Homo sapiens: one gene and its partners. The protein of the gene in region 1 interacts with the protein of each later gene in a pairwise test. Each region holds a gene or a part of one and is shown in the gene's direction. Other genes may lie near its edges.

Region 1 (7,034 bases):
CGCAGGGATGCAGGCCTGAGGGGCAGGAGCCAGCCCAGCCCCCGCCAAGCACTTTGACCTGTAGCAAGAGATTTGCAAAAAACAAAGGCTGGGAAAAAATGCTCCCGAAATGAGAGTGCTTGTGTTTTGATGATGGAAGTATGTATAGTTTTAGTTTTTTTCAGTTCCCATTTTTCTTTTCTTTTCTCTTTTCTTTTCTTTCTCTCTTTCTCCTTCTTTCTTTTTTTTTTTTTTTTTTTTTTTTGAATCAGAGTCTCACTCTGTCACCCAGGCTGGAGTGCAGTGGTGCAATCTTGGCTCCCTGAGACCTCCGCGTCCTGGGTTCAAGTGATTCTCGTGCCTCAGCGTCCCGAGTAGCTGGGATTTCAGGCGCGTGCCACCATGCCCGGCTAATTTTTGTATTTTTAGTAGAGACAGGGTTTCACCATGTTGGTCGGGCTGGTCTCAAACTTCTGACCTCAAGTGATCTGCCCACCTCGGCCTCCCAAAGTGCTGAGAGTACAGTCTTGGGCCACCGTGCCTGGCCCCCATTTTTCTTTAGTAAGCATGCATTACTTTACAACAGCGAGAAGGGAAAGGAGCAATTAGAGTGGCCTTACAAATTGTCAAGCCTTTGGTTGCAGTTATCAGGGCTGTCTCCAATGACCTTTGGTTAAAAAAGGTAGATGGGACCAGGGGCAGCACAGGGATTCCTCTCCTCTATTAGAAGTTGGTGTTCAGAGAGGAATACTGGGGATAGTTAGATTTGAGTACTGACAAGTTCATCCCGGCATTGTTTGTGTGTCTATAACTGGCAACATTCTAAAGCTCAGTGACAGTGGGCAATCTCAGTTGTGGCCTCTCTGTCCCTGCAGTGGGAAACAGGCCACCAGTAACTGCCCAGGTGGATGCATGTGGCTTCATGGCCAGCAGCCCAGGAAGAAGGTGCGTGGTAGCATCCACTGAGAAACATAGGGACAGACGGACGGTTTGAGCCCATTTTAGTTAATATTTATAATAAAATATAAGGGAGCAAGTTCAAACTCCCGTGCTGATCAGTAGTGGCATTGTCCCTGTGAATAGCTACTGTGTAGCAGCCTGGGTAATACCATGAGACCCTATCTCTTAAAAACAAGAAAAGAAAAAATACAAGGAATATATTATTTATATTTAATTATTATATTATATAAAAGCTTAGGACAACCCTGTCTTTTGCATATGGTGACTTTGCCTTAAATAAAGATAGTGAATCATTTCTGTTAGGAATCATAGAAATATGCAGCCATTTTCCGGAAGCATACACAGTGGAGGTGGAATGATACGTGATTTTTATCTTCTTTCTAATTCCTTTTTGGGTTGTCAGATTTGTGTTTTATAAGGACACACATTGCTTCTATAAGTAGAATTTATAAAGCCAGTTTCATTTTGAGAAAAAAATATTTTAGATTAAGCATTCCCTTTCCCCAGTTTGGTGGTACCTGAGCCATAGTCTCCCTGGTGTGACCCCACAGGGGTCCAAGTCACAGGAGTCGCCATGAGGGAGGGGCCTTCTGGGTACACACACATTTGGGATTTGAAAGTAATTGTGTTTTACAAGTAGTTTTGAAATCTTCCTTTGAAATACTGCATCATACAATGTGCATTTCCTGTTTCTGGCCAGTGTGGCTTTGTTCTGTACAGTGATGTTATTACAATTACCAGTTTGCATTGTCCCTCTACAGGAAGAACGCCTCAGGCGGGGTGATGACCTCAGATTACAGATGGCCCTGGAAGAAAGCCGAAGGGACACAGTTAAAATTCCAAAAAAGAAAGAGGTAAGAGCTTGCTGGGAGGGTAGATGTTTCACCCTGTCCTGTAGTTGTTGCCTCAATATCCCCCCACCAACTTGCCTGGATGGCGTGATGCACAGTGAGTTCTCCAACCTCAGCAAATAACCTTCATGCCTGTAGTGAGCGAGAGCCAGGTGAGCAAGCGACTGAAAACACACCTGAACTAACCAGGAGACACTTAATGTCCCAGTGCCTCAGTCTGCTCGTTTGTAAAATGGAGGTGATGATAGTGCCTGCCTCCTGCCGCTGTGGCTACGGCAGCTGTCAAGTGAGCTACATGCCAGGGGCTGCGGAACGCTTTCCTGCAGCAGGGTGTGCCCCCAGAAGTGCTGGTTGCCTCTTCAGCCCTGTGCCAGGCTTCCTGCTGTGATGTAGAGATGACCAGGACATGGCTGGGCTCTTGACAAGCTCATCATCATCCAGTCAAGACCCAGACCCCTTCTACACCACAGGCCCCGGGGCTCCATTGGCCTCCTCTGTTACAGTGCTACTGAGGCCGGTGGAGCCCCTGGCTCCTGACTGGTTGATGTTGATGATCCCTGATGACACATGGGGTGGTCTTGAGAGTGGGGAGCATGCAGGTGCCCGAGGAGGAGGGCCCTCAGGCTGGCCCTGGATGGTGGCTGGCAGGTGGGAGGGATGGCGTTCTGGAGGAGGTCCACAGCCTGGGCAGAAGCCAGTGTTAGCCTGGAAAAGTCTGTTGAGCCCTGAGGTCTCTGAAGTCTGGTGAGGGGGTTTAGCAAACAGTAAATAGCTTGTTGTGACTGGAGAGCTGGCTGGACGGGGAGGGAGATGGGACGGCTCAGTTTCCAAGTTCTTCTCAGCCCCTCCTAGAGGGCTTCACTGGAGGAAGAGGCACAGGTGGGTGATATTTATGGCTAGTTCATGAGTATTTGCTGTAACTGTAGCATAGTAAAACCTGTCCCCTTCTCTTTGTCTTAAAAGCATGGCTCTCTCCCACAGCAGACTACGCTGTTGGATTTAATGGATGCTCTCCCCAGCTCGGGCCCCGCGGCCCAGAAAGCAGAGCCCTGGGGCCCGTCAGCCTCCACTAACCAGACCAACCCCTGGGGCGGGCCAGCGGCTCCTGCGAGTACTTCAGACCCCTGGCCATCGTTTGGTAAAGACCCCATTACTGGTCTCCCGTGCTTGCCTGCTGGATGGGTGAGGGGCAGGGCAGTGCTTCTTGCTGTCTCTCACCCACTTGGGTCTGGTCGATTGTGGTGGGTGTCCAGGCTCCTCCAGCCCTCAGCAGTGATATCCAACTGGCCCTTGCCCTCCTCCTTGAGGATGGTGGCATGGTGTTCCCTCTTTGTTTTGAGTGGTTTTCTGCTTTGGGAGAAGGAAAGTCAACCTCCCCTCAACCTCCCATTTGCATCAGAAATGGCTTGTGCCTTCTCTGGGACATGTTTCAACTCTTGCAGCCTCAGCGTTACACCCAGCGTCCCAGCTGAAGGAACCAAAATACACAGCATGGAACATCCAAATCAAGCTGCTGTAATTAGATGGAAATTATGATGTGCTTACCACCACTGCTGATGAAAAGGGGATACATTTGCTATAATTCTGCTTGTTACTTAAAGCAATAGAAAATCCGTTTAATAGGCTAAATGAATATTTTAAAGTTTTGCTTAATGTGAGATGTAAGAGGAATTGTGGTGGGAAGTTCAAAATGTGAGCATGACACAACTGGTTTGATTTGGGTGATGATCTTGGGCCCACGAGTTTCTTAATCACTGGGCAGGAGCATGGCCCAGCAGGCTTTATGAAGGCTTCCTGGCCTGGTGCCCTGGGAGGCCCCTCCTGGTGTGCTAAACCCTACTGGGCGTGGCTGACCTGTGGGCTGTTTGGGAACTTTGTATATCTTGTGGCATCTTGCCTGTATCTCCTGGAGTCTCTGTTTCTCTCAGAACCGTCTCTTGTGTTTAACTCGGTTCCCTAGATGTTTGCTAAAATGTACCAAGTGACAGGCTGTGTTCTGCTGTGCATGACCCCTGAGACAACAGGTGATTATTGTCCCTGTTGTCTGTTGTCAAGGCCCTGCTCAGGAGCGGGCAGGGCAGGAACACAGCGTAATAGCAGTACTGTGTAGTCCAGGACTCGATGGAGGTTATTTGAGAGCATCCTGGGATGAGATGAGACTCAGTACAGGAGTCCAGGAGTGTGAGGTAAGCATTTTGGAGGAAGGCCACTTCCGTTGAGTCCCCAGGGAAAAGAAGGTGTCCAGGCACCAAGAGGCAGGGAGTTCCCTGCAGAAGACTCAGCGTGTGAGAAGCAGAGGGGTACGGAGTGGTGGAGTGGGTGCAGATGCAACCAGCTGGTGTGAACTGGGAAGCAGGGGAGAAGGGCCCAGATCACTCAGGGCCTGCACTCAGCCTTACCAAGTGCTTGGACTTGGTCCAGAAGACACTGTCAGCCCCCGATGCCCTTTAGCATCTGGTGAGTTCCAATAGCTTGATGGTGGCCTCTGTAACCCAGGCAGGGCCTTATACCCCCTTTGGCAGGAGCCCTCTGGGCCTTGGGAAAAGCCCCAGGCAAAATTGCCCACAGCTTTCATTGACTGAAGGCCAGTTCCAGGGCTGCTCAAGAGGTTGGTTCACAAGGTTTGTCACTTGTGTGTGGTACCCCCAGGGAGCCTGTGGTATGGTTTTACTCACCACACATGGGGACTGTGGTGCCCCAGGGCTGGCAGACCCTTTTAGACAGTGGCTTTGGCTTTATTTTTAAATCTGAAGAATGATTAGTCTGTAAAGTGATGGCCACCATAAGTTATGGTTAGGATGTTTTCAGGAAAGACTGTTCATTAAACTGTCGGATAGTTGTCTTAGTGCCCTGTAAAGAAAGTGGTCACACCAGGAGCCAGGTGGGTTTAATAGAGTTAAATTCTGGGGAGGGAATTGGGGATCAGAGTGGTGGGAAGGAGACTTAGTTTTAACACTTTACCTTTTTATATTGTTTGGCTTGTTTACCAGGGGTAAGTTTTTCCCAGTCAGGAGAGACAAAAATCTCAAAATATCTTTAAATGACCAAGTTATGCCCAGCCCCTCCTTTGGCTGGTGAACAGGGCTGTGCCCTGGACCCAGTGTTCTGGGCCGAGCCAAGGACCTGACCTGACCCTCTAGGAACATAGCGTAATAGCAATACCATGTTGAGAGCACCCTGGGGTGAGACTCGGTACAGGAGTCCAGGGGGTGTGAGCGGAGGAGTCTCCCCTGATGAATGGGGGCAACTTGGTGGGCTTGATGGGCTGCTGCTTCACCTAGGAATGCTGCCCATGTGAATCTGCCCTCCCAAATTTTAAGAACTTGAGATAAAATTCACCATTTCAACTTTTTTTTTTCTTTTTTTTGAGACAGTCTCACTATTGCCCAGGCTGGAGTGCAGTGGCACCATCTTAGCTCATTGCAACCTTCGCCTCCCAGGTTCAAGCAATTCTCCTGCTTCATCCTCCTGAGTAGCTGGGATTACAGGCTTGTGCCACCACACCAACTAGTTTTTTATTTTTAGTAGAGACGGGGTTTCACCATGTTGGCTGGGCTGGTCTCAAACTCCTGACCTTAAGTGATCCGCTTGCCTCGGCCTCCCAAAGTGTTGGGATTACAGGCATGAGGCACCGCTCCTGGCCCATTTCAACCATTTTAAAGCGGACACTTCACTGGTTTTCAGCACATTCACAATGTTGTGCAGCCACCATCAGATATCTAATTCCAGAACATTTCCATCACCCCAGAAAGAAACCGCATACCCAGGCCCTGGCAACCAGTATGTGCTTTCTATCTCCAGGGATTTGCCTCTCTGGACATTTCATAGAAACGGAGTCATGCACTGTGTGGACTTTTGTGCCTGGCTTATTTTGTTTAGCATCATGTTTTCAAGGTTCATCAATGTTATAGCGTGTGTCAGTCCTTCATGACTTTCTGTGGATGAATAATATTCCATTGCATGGATATACAACACTTCGTTTAACCATTCAGCAATTGATGGATATTTGGGCTGTTTTCACATTTTGGCTATTATGAATCCAGTTTTTTAAAGAGAAGATAGAAACCTGGATTTTTGAAATCTAGTGTTTAAATGTTGGCTGTGAATTTTAAAAATTAAGAATATGGTTTGAGCTAATTAAAAGCTATCTGAGGATGGGCACATGTGGCTTGTTGACTGCCAGTTGGCCATCTCTTGCCACTTGCCCAGCCTAGGACCTTCTTGGTTCTGATGCACTTGGCATTATTACCAGTGACTTGGGGAGGAGATAGGCCACCAAAGCCCATAGACATTGTTAATAGGTTTGGGACAGGCTCAGTGCTTATGGCACCATGTCCTGTAGTTGTCACACCATCCTGGACTGCTGCAAGGCCCTTCTGTGGCCCTGGCATGTCCTGGAAAAGTCACCACAAATTCCAATATGGAGAGATAGCCACTGTTAAAATGTTAGCTTGTCTGCTTCCTGTCTTTTTTCTGGGCATTATGTTTTTACTCAGTTGAAGCTATATTGTATATATAATTACGTGTGTATGTATGTGTATATTTCAATTTGTAGTGTCATGAGCATTTCTAGGCATCATTAGAAATTCTAAACAATACCACGCTGTACCATCATTTACTAAGCAGCCTAGTGATGTTCATAGGGGTGTTTTTGCAGTTCTGGCACTCTGCTTTCAATAGAAAAATACATTAAAATCACAGTGATTTCTTTTAATTCTGAGATTCTTTTCTCAGTGGTGGTGTTGACCAGCTCTGCAGGAGAATGGCCCTCTGCTAGCTCCTGCATTCACTGAAGCGTGTTAGCACACCCTCTGCTTCCACATTCCATCAGCGTAGCCTCAGAGCAAGAGTGTGGTATTGGATTTATTGTTTAGCATCTAGTTAAATCCAATAGTGCAAATTTTCAGGGTCACCCCTCCATCCTGAGACTCATTCATAAATTAGAAAGATTGGAGTCCCTTCCCCTAACAGTGTTAGCTGTGCCCTCTGGATGAAAGAAACACTGTTTTGAAAGCCACCATTTGTAGTGAGCCCCATCATTACCAGTTTTTTCCAAGCAGCACTAGGAGCAACTTGGCCAAGTGGCCTTGGGAGGAAATGCTCAGGGTTGAAAGGAGGGAGATTGGAGCCTGCCAGGTCAGTGGGGCGCTTCCTCCTCTGTTCCAGACACACAAAGCAGCCACCTGGTCTGAGGAGGGCTTATAGCCTGCTGATTCAGAAGACCTTGGCTGGCTGGAGCCCTCT
Region 2 (7,034 bases), on another chromosome or scaffold:
GCAGCTAGTTTGCTGGTGTTTTATTCTCTAGAGACCAACAGCTAGGGCTTAGTGTTTATCTGATGAGTTTTAGTTTATGCATTCAGTTTTGCTCCAGGATATAAATAGTGAAATGTTGAATTAAGTTATGGAGTGGTGTGAAATTCAGCATGCTAAGGCAATCAAACAGAAGTCTTCTGAGCCATTTGAGAAGCAGCTTGATGTCCTTGTTCTTAGAACAGGGCTGTCCAATCTTTAGACTTTCTTGGGCCACATTGGAAGAAGGCCATACATAAAATACACTAACCCTAATGATAGCTGATGCACTAAAAAATAAAATTGCAAAAAAATCTCATAACGTTTTAAGAAAGTTTACAAATTTGTGTTGGGCTGCATTCAAAGCTGACCTGGGCTGGGGCCATGAGTTGGACAAGCTTGTTCTAGAATATTTTCGGCAAATTTTGGTAAGGGGGAAAATAAGTAATAGTAATAATAGTAGTAAATAGTAATAATTGCTGTCAAAGCAGCTACCATTTATCGAGTTCTAGTAACTGTGAGGCACCATGCCAACTACTTACATATTATTTCACCCAATTTTCCGAACATCCTGTCAAGTAGGTGGTGGGAATTTTCGTTTTATAGATCAGGCTTGGAAACGTGACTTGTCCGATTGAGTCAGGATCTGAACATAGGTCTTTTAACTCTAAAGCTTATACCCAAACACTGGGTTCTGTGAAATTTCAAAAGCATATGATAGGCTGACTGCAGTGGCTCATACCTGTAATCCCAGAACTTTGGGAGGCTGAGATGGAAGAATCCCTTGAGCCCAGGAGTTCGAGACCAGCTTGGGCAACATAGTGAAACCTCGTCTCTACAAAAACAAAACAAAATGTGATCAAAATCATACTTCATGATTTTTGGTTTCTAAAGATACTCTCTAAATTTCTCTCCCCAATTTAAAAACGAAAGCAGAGCACTGTTGGAAGGTTCAAATAGGTAGATTAATTTAGGTTGGTTTTTTTGTTTTGGTATAGTTGAAGATAATTCAGGTTATTGTTTACATGTTTACATTTATCAAAATAATACATGTACATAGATTGAAAGACCAAATAGGCTGAGCGTGGTGGCTCAAGCTTTTGGAGGCCAGCACTTTTGGAGGCTGAGGCGGGTGGATCCCCTGAGGTCAGGAGTTTGAGACCAGCCTGACCAACGTGGTAAAATCCCGTCTGTACTAAAAGTACAAAAATCAGCTGTGCGTGGTGGTGGGCGCCTGTAATCCCAGCTACTTGGGAGGCTGAGGCAGGAGAATCGCTTGAACCTGGAAGGCGATGGGTGCAGTGAGCCAAGATCGCGCCACTATACTCCAGCCTGGGCAACAAGAGCGAAACTCTGTCTCAAAACAAACAAACAAAAAAAACAACCAAATAGTGCTTTAAACCTTAGAATAAAAAAAAATATATCAATCTCTTGTCCACCCCCTTTTTAAACTATAGACAACTATTTTCACCTTTTTTTGGCACTTTTTAAAATAGTATTTTGGCTGGGTGTGGTGGCTCACACCTGTAATTCCAGCACTTTGGGATGCCAAGGCAAGTGGATCATGAGGTCAGGAGATCGAGACCATCCTGGCTGACACGGTGAAACCCTGTCTCTACTAAAAATACAAAAAAATTACCTGGGTGTGGTGGCGGTTGCCTGTAGTCCCAGCTATTCGGGAGGCTGAGGCAGGAGAATGGCATGAACCTGGGAGGTGGAGGTTGCAGAGAGCTGAGATCGCGCCACTGCCCTCCAGCCTGGGTGACAGAGTGAGACTCCGTCTCAAAAAAAAAAAATAGTATTTTATCTTTGTGGATATGGTAAAATTGCTATTGATTTACATGTAATCTTTTGACTTTTGATCATAGAAGACTTTTGCTGCCTTGTAAAACTCTTCAATCCACCAGTGAGTCAAAAACTTGTAGGAAATTTGTCAGTTACTTTTTTTCCTCCCCTGTAGTACTCGGTCCTGCTCCAGTCTGGACTGTTTTTTTTTTTTTTTTTCCTCCCCAGTCCTTCTGCACAGCTGCCTTTCTGGGAATTTCCTCCCCTGCCAGTTGAAGACCGAATCCTACTCTGTCGCCCAGGCTGGAGTGCAGTGACATGATCATTCATGGCTTACTGTGCTTCTACCTTCTGGGCTCAAGCGATCTTCCTACCTCAGTCTCCCGAGTAGGTGGGACTACAGGCGTGCACCACTATGTGCAGCTAACTTCTTATTTTTTTGTTGAGAATGTCTCACTGTGTTGCTGGGTTGGTCTCAAACTCCTGGGCTGAAGCGATTCTCCCACCTTGGCTTCCCAAAGTGTTGGGATTATGCTCAAGAGCCACCATGCCTGGCCTTGATTAATGATTTGACTGGGTGTGGAATTCTGGCTTGGAAATAATTTTCCGTTAGCATTTTGAAGGTATTGCTCTAGATGTCCTGTGTCTTGCTGATTGTTGATCCTTTATATATGCTTTTTTCTTTGGGAAGTTTTTAGGTTCTCTTCTTTGTCCTTGATGTTATGAAATTTCAGTCATCCTACCTATGGAGAATCTTTTAAAATTCATCATGCTGGACAGTCATTGGATCTTTTGAATCTAGAAATGTGTTATCCTGTTGCAGGAAATGGTTTTATAGTATTATTTCTCTGCTCTTTTCTCTGTGGTTTATTTATGAAATTCTCCTATAAGCAGAATTTTTTTTTTTGAGACGGAGTCTCGCTGTGATGCCCAGGCTGGAATGCAGTGGTGGGATCTCAGCTCACTGCAACCTCCGTCTCCCGGGTTCAAGTGATTCTCCTGCCTCAGCCTGCTCAGTAGCTGGGACTACAAGTGCGTGCCACCATGCCTGGCTAATTTTTGTATTTTTAGTAGAGATGGGGTTTCACCATACTGGCCAGGCTCGTCTTGAACTCCTGACCCCAAGTGATCTACCCACCTCAGCCTCCCAAAGTGCTGTGATTAACAGGTATGAGCCACTGTGCCCAGCCAGCAGAATATTTTATATTCCAGGCTCATCCTCTAATTTTTTTCCATCTCTTGGTCTTTTTTTTTTTTTTTTTTAGCTCTTCATTTCAGAGAGATTTCTTCCATCTTGATCTTTCCAACTCTTGTATTGAATTTTTAATTTTGGTTATTATTTTTAATTGAGAGCTCTGAATATTTCTTTTTATTCTTGTTTTTTTTTTTTTTGAGATGGAGTCTCACTCCAGTCACCCAGGCTGGAGTGCAGTGGCACTATCTCGGCTCACTGCAAGCTCCGCCTCCCGGGTTCACGCCATTCTCCTGCCTCAGCCTCCTGAGTAGCTGGGACTACAGGAGCCTGCCACCACGCCCAACTAATTTTTGTATTTTTAGTAGAGACGGGGTTTCACCATGTTGGCCAGGCTGGTCTCGAACTCCTGACCTCAAGTGATCTACTCTCCTCGGCCTCCTAAAGTGTTGGGATTATAGGCGTGAGCCACTGTGGCCAGCTGTAAAGTAATATTTTTAAAGTTTTCTTTTGTACCCAGCATTGTCTCTGATTCTTGAGGTTTTTTTCTTGAAAATTTTATTTTCTTTAATCTCTATCTTTTATGGTCTAGATTTTTCTCCAGTGTCTGATTGTGGTACTGTGAAATGTTTATTTTGTCTTTGACCTCATTTCCTGCCTTACAACTCCTATTTAATACAATCCTTAAAAATCTCCAAAATGATGTCTTTTTGTATGCTAATGATTGATTGATGGCCTGCAGACTCCCTTCAGGATGGGAGCTGGTCATCTGAAACACCTATGCGACTTTAGAGGGTTGGAACTTTCATGTCTGCCCCCCAACCTTCCAGGAAGGAGAGAGGGGTTCAAGGTGATGTTGATCACCAGTGGCTGTTGGTTTAATCAATCATGCTAATGTAATGAGGCCTCCATAAAAACCCAAAAGGATTGGGTTTGGGGAGCCTCCAGAATAGCCGAACACCTGGAGGTTCCTGGAGGGAGGGTGGTGTGCCTGGAGAGGCCTGAACACTAACACCTTGCCCTATACATCTCTTCATCTGTGTCCTTTGTAATACCCTTTATAATAAACTGGTAAATATAAGTCATTGTTTACCTGAATTTTGTGAGCTGCTCTAGCAAATTAATCAAACACAGGGAGATGGGGGAATTCTAATAGACCTAAAGAAAGAAACTAAAGCAAAAATTACTATAAATAGAGAGTTTATTTAGGCCAGATTTGAGGACAGCAACCTGGGAAGCATAGATTCAAGTTGCTCTGAATATATGCTTTGAGTAGCAACAGTTAGAAGTGGGATTTTAAAGGGCAAAAATAGGGGCAGTTTCTAAGTTGAACATAAACTATTGGTTGGCTGTATATTGTTCTTTGTACCACACATTCCAGGAACATGAAGAAAATGATTGAGGGTCACATTGTGTAACTTGTAGTAACAGTCTTGGTAATTTATCAGCTTGTCTGGAAACTACAGGAAAGGGAAGATTAAAAAAACCCCAAGTCCCTTTAAACAGTTAACCCTGAGCGTGGCTGGGGCTGTGGTAACTAAAGACCCATTTTCTAAATTTTGCCGGCTTTATGTTCTTCAGATTGCTCTGAGCTACTTTTCTTTCTCACTGACTTAAAGCTAGTTGATCACATGTTCCAGAGGCCCTGACTTGTGGCTGGTGTCTGAAGGGTGGGCAGTCTTGTGGGACTGAGCCCTCAACCTGTGGGATCTGATGCTATCTCCAGGTAGATAGTGTGACAGTTGAATTGCAGGACACCTAGTTGGTGTTCGCTGAAGAATTTTTTTTTTTTTTTGAGACCGGGTCTCACTCCTGCCCAGGTTGGAATGTAGTGGTGTGATCACGGCTCACTGCAACCTCCCCATCCCAGGCTCAAGTGGTCCTCTTACCTCAGCCCCCCAGTAGCTGGGACTACAGGTGTGTGCCACCATGCCCCGCTGATTTTTGTATGGATGAGGTTTCACCATGTTGCCTAGGCTAGTCTCAAACTCCTGAGCTCAAGTGGTCCCCTGACCTTCTCCTCCTAAAATGTTGGGATTACAGATGCGCAACACTGTGCATGGGCCTGCTGCATAATTGATTTCTTGCTTGGTATGTGGGGAGAAACCCTCACACATTTGGTCACAGAAGTCTTCTATGTTGATTGTTGTGACGTGAGAGCAGAGGAAAAACAGTATTTTTTTCTACTCAGACTGATGATACTTGCTCTGTATTCCTATTTAAGAGAGGTACTGAAAAGCTGATTGGAAGTCTGTGTGTTTGCTTCAAGTCTGTCTCTTGGTGAGCTTCTCTGGAGGGTGTTAGGCAAAGTTTGGCTTTTTCATTACAGAACACCCAGTTGTCAGTATCAGTGAGCCTTTCCTCTTGGGACTATGCCTTTGCTCTGAGCTAGAGTCTGAGAAGTAAGGAAGAAGATGGAGAATTTGACTTTCACGGACTATATTCTTCTAAGTGTGGCCTGCGACTTTAAGCTGTGTGTAGTGTGGCCACGCCCAGTCTCCAGAGGCATCATCTTCAGGATCAGGGAGGGTCCCTGTCTGCTTGGGTAGGGTGCCTAGTGACCCCTTTGAAGACTTTCCATTAATTCTTCTGATTTCTCCCCACCTCTAGAATTCTCTCTTACCCCCAATTTCTGAGTCTGTTTTTATGTGGCAGGAGTTGGCTTGCTGTGTTTTGGCTTCTGTTAGCACATAACAAAGTAGAGGTGGCCATATTTTATGTTAGTTGACACTTGTCTGTTTGTCTTAGAACTTTCAAAATGTTGTGTCTCGTCTGCTTTTGTCTGCTGCTGTTCTCTGTGGATTTATGCCTTGTTTTCTCCTTAACTCTCATTTTAGTTGCATTTCAGGAGGGAGTGGCCCAGGCTGGAGTGCAGTGGCGTGATCTCAGCTCACTGCAAGCTCCGCCTCCTGGGTTCGCACCATTCTCCTGCCTCAGCCTCCCGAGTAGCTGGGACTACAGGCGCCCGCCCCCACGCCCGGCTAATTTTTGTATTTTTAGTAGAGACGGGGTTTCATCGTGTTAGCCAGGATGGTCTCCATCTCCTGACCTCGTGATCCACCCTCCTCAGCCTCCCAAAGTGCTGGGATTACAGGCGTGAGCCATGGCCCATCCCTGCCCTGGAGACATTTTGCCCATTGTCTTGGTGATTAACATTGGACTTCTTGTTACTTATGCAAATTTCTGCAGCAGGCTTGAATTTCTCCCCAGAAAATGGGTTTTTCTTTTCTGTTGCATCATCAGTTGGCAAATTTTCCAAACTTTTATGCTCTGCTTCTTCTTGAAGGCTTTGCTGCTTAGAAATTTCTTTTACTAGATACCCTAAATCATCTCTCTCAAGTTCAAACTTCCACAGATCTCTAGGACAGGGACAAAATACCACCAGTCTCTTTACATAACAATAGTGACCTTTACTCCAGTTCCCAACTAGTTCCTCATCTCCATCTGAGACCAGTGCAGCCTGGACCTTATTGTCCATATCACTATCAGCATTTTGGTCAAAGCCACTCAGCAAGTCTCTAGGAAGTTCCAAACTTTCCCACATCTTTCTGTCTTCTTCTGAGCCCTCCAAACTGTTCCAACCTCTGCCTTTTACCTGTTTCCAAAGTTGCTTCCACATTTTCAGTTATCTTTTCAGTAGCATTCCGCTGTACTGGTACCAGTTTACTGTATTAGTCTGTTCTCACGCTGCTAATAAAGATATACCCAAGACTGGGTGATTTATAAAGGAAGGAGGTTTAGTTGACTCACAGTTCCACATGGCTGGGGAGTTCTCACAATCATGGTGGAAGGCAAATGAGGAACAAAGTCATGTCTTACATGGTGGCAGGCAAGAGAACTTGTGCGGGGAACTCCCATTTATAAAACTGTCAGATCTTGTGAGACTTATTCACTACCATGAGAACAGTATGGGGGAAACTGTCCCCATGATTCAGTTATCTCCACCTGGCCTCACTGTTGACATGTGGGGATTATTACAATTCAAGGTGAGATTTGGGTAGGAATAAAGCCAAACCATTATCAGAAAGTATGTCTTTTTTTT
Region 3 (7,034 bases), on another chromosome or scaffold:
AATAAATATATTAATAAATAAATAAGAAGTATAGGCATTCTCATACATAACCTCAGTAAATACCATTAAGAAAATAATTTTAGACATGGTGCAGTTGCTCATGCCTATAATCCCAGCACTTTGGGAGGCTGAGGTGGGAGGATGGCTTGAGCCTAGGAGTTTGAGACCAGCCTGGGCAATATAGTGGCAACTCTTCTCTACAAAAACCTTTAAAAATTAGCCAAGTGTGGTAGTATGCACCTGTTGTTGCAGCAACTCGGGAGCCTGAGATGAGAAGATTGCTTGAGCCAGGGAGGCCGAGGTTGCAGTGAGCCCAGATAGTTCCACTGCACTCTGGGGGACAGAGTAAGACCCTGTCTCAAAAAAAAAAAAAAAAAAAAGAAAGAGAGGAAATAATTTTTTAATATGATCTAACACCCAGCCTACTTACAAATTTCCCACAATAGTTCCAAGACTATTTTTATAACCTTTTTTTTCTTTTTACAGGATCCAATCAAGGTTCACGTATTGCATTTGGTTATTATTTCTCTTTAGTCTGTAAAAATCAAAAGCAGTTCTTTCGAAGGTTTTTTTTTATGACATTGACTTTTTAAAAGACTAGGCCAGTTGCCATGTGCAATGTCCAGCATTCTGGATTTATCTGGTTCTTTCCTTATGGTGTGGTTTAATTCCTCCATCGGTACTTTTTCAGTTATAACATACTTCAGAGTATTCCTTTCCTTTATATTTTTTATAAACTGGAAGTTAGATCTAAAGTCTTGACTAGATTCATTCAAGTCAAACATTTTTGGCACAAACACTTCATAGGTAATGTTGTGTGATTCATATAGTGCCATGCCAGAAAGCACATGCCACTTTGCCCCGTCTGCTGATGACGCTGGATTTGGTCACTTAGTTAAGATAACCACTGGATCTCTTCCTTATGAAGGTATGTCAGGAAGTAATCCATTCATTGGTGCTTTGGCACCATGGGTACTATCTCATCCCCCAAAACTTTTCACCTAATAGTTTTAGCATCTATTGATGATCCTTGTGCTATTATAATGGCAGTCGCAAAATGATTTTCTAATTCTGTTATCCCTCTTCTACTTATTTGCTGATTAATCTTACAGAAGGTTATTCTTCTGTAATCCCCAGACAATTTTAGGTATCTAGTACATATGCAATAATTTTTAGACAGTTTCAGGAGGTTTAGAGACCATCAAACCCCAGCATGGAGCCTGGGTGATGAGGTGTCCTGTTTTGCATGGAAGAAGAGCTGTAGCTGAGCTCTTCATAGTCCTTTTATTGTTCTTATTTTGCAAGTAAATTGCAAAATAAGTTCCCAACCCAAAGATAACACAGGCTATCCTTCAACAAAGAAAAACCTCAGCTTTTAAACTTCTAGGCCATTTGGCAAAGAGGCATGATAAAGGGCTTGAAAGCCCACAGACACGCCCAGTACCACTCCTTTTTCCTCTTTCCAAACACTTGCAGTATGTTACAACTGAAAAACTGCTGAGCCAGGCTTATTTCCTCAACAGTAAAGCCAAGGAGTTGGACCAGGCAATTCCTAGCATTTCTTTCTTTTTTTTTTTTTGAGATGGAGTCTCACTCTGTCACCCAGGCTGGAGTGCAATGGCACGATCTCGGCTCACTGCAACCTCTGCCTCCCGGGTTGAGGTGATTGATTCTCCTGCCTCAGCCTCCTGAGTAGCTGGGACTACAGGTGCATGCTACCACACCTGGATAATTTTTGTATTTTTAGTAGAGATGGGGTTTCACCGTGTTAGCCAGGATGGTCTCAATCTCCTGACATTGTGATTCACCTGCCTCGGCCTCCCAAAGTGTTGGGATTACAGGTGTGAGCCACCGTGCCCGGCCAATTCCTAGCATTTCTACCAGCATTACTAACATGTAGGAACTTGATATTACTTTCACTTGACAGTTAAATTCCTTGAATCCTTCATTTGAGCTTTGAAGGTGCTTGATTTTCCCCTCATTATGTCTCTTAAAGTCACACATACCTAGATCCATTAGTGCTTCCAGTTGGAATTTATTATCAGCACTATAAGAATCTCTTATATTTATGTAGTCCTTTTACGTTATAAAACACTTTTTATGTATTATTGTACTAGACCCTCAATGAGTGGACGTTATATCCCTGTTTTGTTTACTCTTGGGTCTTATAGACTGGGGGTTTTATTTCTGTCCCATTAATGTCACTACTGACAGAGGCCACTGAACTCTGTTGTGATGGACTTTCACCATACATAATCATTAATAGTATTGATTTGCCTGTAATTCAGGTTGCTTCATTCCAGCCTCGCAGTCACCTCTGTGCCCTGCTGGTTGTCTTCCCAGCGCTGCTGTAGTTGCCTTCCATGGATCTATAGGAGAGCAAGTCCTCCAGGTACTGCCCTGTGACGATGTTGTTGAACTCTGTAGCACGTGTGTCACTGTGGCTGGTTCTGCTCACTTCCTCTTTTGCTGCCACTTTTGAATTTAACTCTTTGTTTGTGGTTTGGACACTCACTGGATTTGGAAACCAGGGGTTGTGGGTTCTCTCCTAGATTTCCGTCTGTGTACCAGGCTTGTGCTTAGCACTTTTCCCATAATTCTTTCACATGACCTGCTTAGAAACCCTTAAAGGTAAGTATCACTCTTCCCATTTTACAGATGGATACACTGAGGCTCAGTACTTAAGTGACTTCTGTATTGTCACACAGAGTCAGGGGCAGGAGGCTGCTCTTGGGTTAGATGTGCTGAGGCTCATAACCTCAGCCTGGAACTGGGTCAGGACTACAAAGGTAAACAGAAGCAGAGTCCTTTCTGTGTGTCCCCGCTCCCTGTACAAGCCAAGGCCTCACAGCACATAGCAGCCACAGCCACCTGAGGATTCCTGCCATCTAGACGAGGCAGTTACAGCCAAGAACAAGTCCACTGAGGCTAAGCTGTGCTCCTCTGGAGGGCTGTGTTTAGAGTCCAGCCTTCTAGGGGAAGCAAATTAAACCCAAACTATAGAACAGCCCAGGGAAATACTCACAAAGGGAAATGCTGACAGTCAGACTCCTGAAGCTTCCTGATGCTTCTCGAGTTTTGGTAAAGAACCTCAGTGCTGTTTGTTTGTTTGTTTTTTAATGTTTTCTGGTTTTTTGTTTGTTTTGAGACAGTCTCTTATTCTGTTGCCCAGTCTGGAGTGTAGTAGTACAATCATGGCTCACTGTAGCCTCCACCTCCCAGATTCAAGTAATCCTTCTGCCACAGCCTCCTCAGTAGCTGAGACTACAGATGCATGCTACTACACTGGGGTATTTTAAAAAATTTTTAAATTTTTTTAGTTGAGACAGGGTCTCACTATGTTGCTGAGGCTGGTTTCAAACTCCTCGGTTCAAGTGATCCTCCTGCCTCAGCCACCCAAAGTGTTGGATTTACAGGGTGAGCCATGTCACATTGCCCTCTCTTAGTTCTTGAAACCTGAAACCTTGAGGAGCAAACAAAAGGGGTCTCTTGGCCAGGTGCAGTGGCTCACGCCTGTAATCCCAGCACTTTGGGAGGCCGAGGCAGGTGGATCACGAGGTCGGGAGATCAAGACCATCCTGGCTAACACGGTGAAACCCCGTCTCTACTAAAAATACAAAAAATTAGCCAGGTGTGGTGGTGGGTGCCTGTAGTCCCAGCTACTCGGGAGGCTGAGGCAGGAGAATGGTGTGAACCTGGGAGGCGGAGGTTGCAGTGAGCTGAGATCACGCCACTGCACTCCAGCCTGGGCGACAGAGTAAGACTCCATCTCAAAAAAAAAAAAACCAAAAAAAAAAAACGGGCGGTCTCTTGACTCTGTCAGGACCCCCATGACTGCTCGTGTGTCTTGTGCTTTGCACAGTTGAGTGAAGGAGCACTGTGTCCACAGTAGACATTGTAGATTTATATGTGTATCATTATGAGTTTCCCAGCAGGTAGTGAGAGATTTTTTATTACAGTTGGTGCATTACAGCGATTTTCCAACAGATAGAAGGAAAGGGTGTTGAGGCTCTCCCAACAGCAAGGTATAGGCTAGTGGCTGTCCTGCTCTTCACTCTACCAAGCTAATCTTTCTGGGTTTCCATATCCTTATCTGTACAATGAGGAAGTTGGACTAGATCTATAAGGTCCTCTTCTCGTTGACATTGTGTGAACCTTGTAGGAGCTGGTGGTGTCTGTCGATTGACTGAGTGCTGGAGCTGGCAGCCCTGTGCAGGCTGCCACCTTTGCCCCTTTACTGTGCTTGCTCCTGACTCTATGTCGCGTCTCCAAGGAGAAGAAGTCCTCACCAGTGAACGGAGACCTCTCTGAACTAAGGATACCATGGCCACGTCAGCCCCACTACGGAGCCTGGAAGAGGAGGTGACCTGCTCCATCTGTCTTGATTACCTGCGGGACCCTGTGACCATTGACTGTGGCCACGTCTTCTGCCGCAGCTGCACCACAGACGTCCGCCCCATCTCAGGGAGCCGCCCCGTCTGCCCACTCTGCAAGAAGCCTTTTAAGAAGGAGAACATCCGACCCGTGTGGCAACTGGCCAGCCTGGTGGAGAACATTGAGCGGCTGAAGGTGGACAAGGGCAGGCAGCCGGGAGAGGTGACCCGGGAGCAGCAGGATGCAAAGTTGTGCGAGCGACACCGAGAGAAGCTGCACTACTACTGTGAGGACGACGGGAAGCTGCTGTGCGTGATGTGCCGGGAGTCCCGGGAGCACAGGCCCCACACGGCCGTCCTCATGGAGAAGGCCGCCCAGCCCCACAGGGTAAGCCCTCTTCACCCCCGAGGGTGCCTTGCCACCTTCTCTGGATGCTCCACCTTGCAGTCCTCAGAGGACTCAGCCTGAGTCTCCCTTCCTGCCCCAGCCCAGAGCATCCACCTGTTGCCACTGCTTGTTTTTCCACAGGAAAAAATCCTGAACCACCTGAGTACCCTAAGGAGGGACAGAGACAAAATTCAGGGCTTCCAGGCAAAGGGAGAAGCTGATATCCTGGCCGCGCTGGTAAGTGAGGCTGTTTCAGGAAGCCCTGAGGCGGTGCGCCCGTGTAGGGCAGGGTGAGCCTGGGCAAGTAGGCGGCAGCTGGGAGGTGTTTCTAGGCGCTGCTCACAGGGAGGATGGGTGTCAGCCTGGCAGTAGCAGACCTGGGTTTTAGCCCAAGTGCTGTCTTTCTGAGCCGTGTAGTCTTGGGCCTGTTTCTTGTCTGAGAGACAAGTGGGCTGCCTGGATGTCAGCTAGAGTCCCTTCCGTTTTCTGTGACTGTCACCTTGAAGGCAGGGCCCATGTCCAGCTGCTGGTTCTCTTCTGCCAGGGGACTGAAGAAGGTGTGGCTTCATTCTTCCTTTCAAAGAGAGAGAGAGAGACAAGGTTGCCTGAGAGTGGAGAGGGTTTAGAAGGAGGGAGCTGGCTCCAGGGTAAGAACTGAGAGGGAAGGGCTAGAAAACAGCTAAGGCAGGTCTGCCAATTCTGATGGCACTGTATGTAGTGAGGTCCAGGCCCAGGATCATGGTTGCCAGTACAGTGGGACCTCCTCCATATCTGTGGGTTCCGTAGCGGCGAATTTACCCAACCATGGATCAGAAATATTCAGAAAAAAGAAAAAGCGTCTCTACTGAACATGTACAGATTTTTTTTCTTGTCATTATTCTCTAAACAATTCAGTGTAACAGCTATTTATATAGCATTTACATTATATTAGGCATTATAAGTAATCTAGTGATAATTTAAAGTATATAGTAGATTTTATGTAACTATTATTCCATTTTACATAAGAACTTGAGCATCCTTGGATTTTGGTATCCTTGGGGAGGGAGATCCTGGAACCCATCACCCACTGATACCAAGGGACAACTGTAGTTAGAAAACAGGCAGCACATTATGTACTTGATTAGAGATGGGGTTGGGGGGAACTGATCAAATGGTTCTGATTTTCTGGGGAACTGTGTATGTTGAGGAAGTGGGCAGTGGAGGAGTAGTGGGGTCAGGGCCAGTGGTGAGTCATTAGGCCTAGGGAGAGGGAAACAGTAAGCTAGAGACAGCCAAGTCCAAGGACCCCTCCAGGCCCTCAGTGTGCATGGCTGCCCCCAGCTCAGCACCAGTCAACAGGGCCACTGAGGACTCCCCCAACCCCAGCTGGGGAGGAGATTTGGAGGCAGGAAAGGACATAGTCCCTAAGCACAGACGTCACACAATTTTGCTGAGGAAACAGGATGCAGTCTTACATGGCAGGGGTGGGGTACATATAGATATTTTAGACTGAACAGTGGGGTGCTGAAGAGAGGGCTGGTCAGGCTTAGATGACATTAATCAAGCAAAACTTCCTGGAAGAGGTGACAGATTTTGTCCAGGAGGGAAAAGTGCGTCGGCTCATGAGTGAGACCCACAGAGTTTCTCTAGGGGCCCCAGAGCGTACTGGTTTAGCTAGAACAGATTGTGGCTGACCAGTCAGGTGGAGACAGGGTTTTGACCATATAGTGGTGGGGTGAACTGAACTAATTCATTACTGGAGTCTTCTTTGAGAAGCGGAGTGTGGACCAGGAACCCTCTGTAGCTCCTCCCACTCCAGATCCTGTAGAATTCCTGAACGGGGGTAGCGAGGTGAACGAGCCAGCCTTGCACACCTCCAGCACTGGGCCCTCCACCCTGAGCAGAGGTGTCAGCCCTTCTCCCCTTCCTGCCCCCTGCAGAAGAAGCTCCAGGACCAGAGGCAGTACATTGTGGCTGAGTTTGAGCAGGGTCATCAGTTCCTGAGGGAGCGGGAGGAACACCTGCTGGAACAGCTGGCGAAGCTGGAGCAGGAGCTCACGGAGGGCAGGGAGAAGTTCAAGAGCCGGGGCGTCGGGGAGCTTGCCCGGCTGGCCCTGGTCATCTCCGAACTGGAGGGCAAGGCGCAGCAGCCAGCTGCAGAGCTCATGCAGGTGAGAGGCCGTCCCTGGGCAGGGCGCCAGGGACCAGGACGGTGGGTCCCAGCCCTGCCATTCACTTGCAGGACCTTAGAAGACTTGGGGGCTCAGTTTTGTCATCTGAAACATGGAGATGAT

Evidence for each region.
Region 2: the proteins of EPN2 (region 1) and PLEKHB2 interact in binary tests that used the Homo sapiens proteins (3 or more experiments, as listed by UniProt).
Region 3: the proteins of EPN2 (region 1) and TRIM26 interact in binary tests that used the Homo sapiens proteins (3 or more experiments, as listed by UniProt).

The regions. Positions count from the first base shown.
Region 1 is NC_000017.11:19,310,352-19,317,385, forward strand, and holds part of EPN2 (epsin-2), read left to right. Parts: intron 1-1,700; coding exon 1,701-1,793; intron 1,794-2,753; coding exon 2,754-2,928; intron 2,929-7,034. UniProt on the Homo sapiens protein: Plays a role in the formation of clathrin-coated invaginations and endocytosis.
Region 2 is NC_000002.12:131,108,316-131,115,349, forward strand, and holds part of PLEKHB2 (pleckstrin homology domain-containing family B member 2), read left to right. Parts: intron 1-7,034. UniProt on the Homo sapiens protein: Involved in retrograde transport of recycling endosomes.
Region 3 is NC_000006.12:30,196,393-30,203,426, reverse strand, and holds part of TRIM26 (tripartite motif-containing protein 26), read left to right. Parts: intron 1-2,288; 5' UTR 2,289-2,392; intron 2,393-4,162; 5' UTR 4,163-4,323; coding exon 4,324-4,761; intron 4,762-4,902; coding exon 4,903-4,998; intron 4,999-6,680; coding exon 6,681-6,911; intron 6,912-7,034.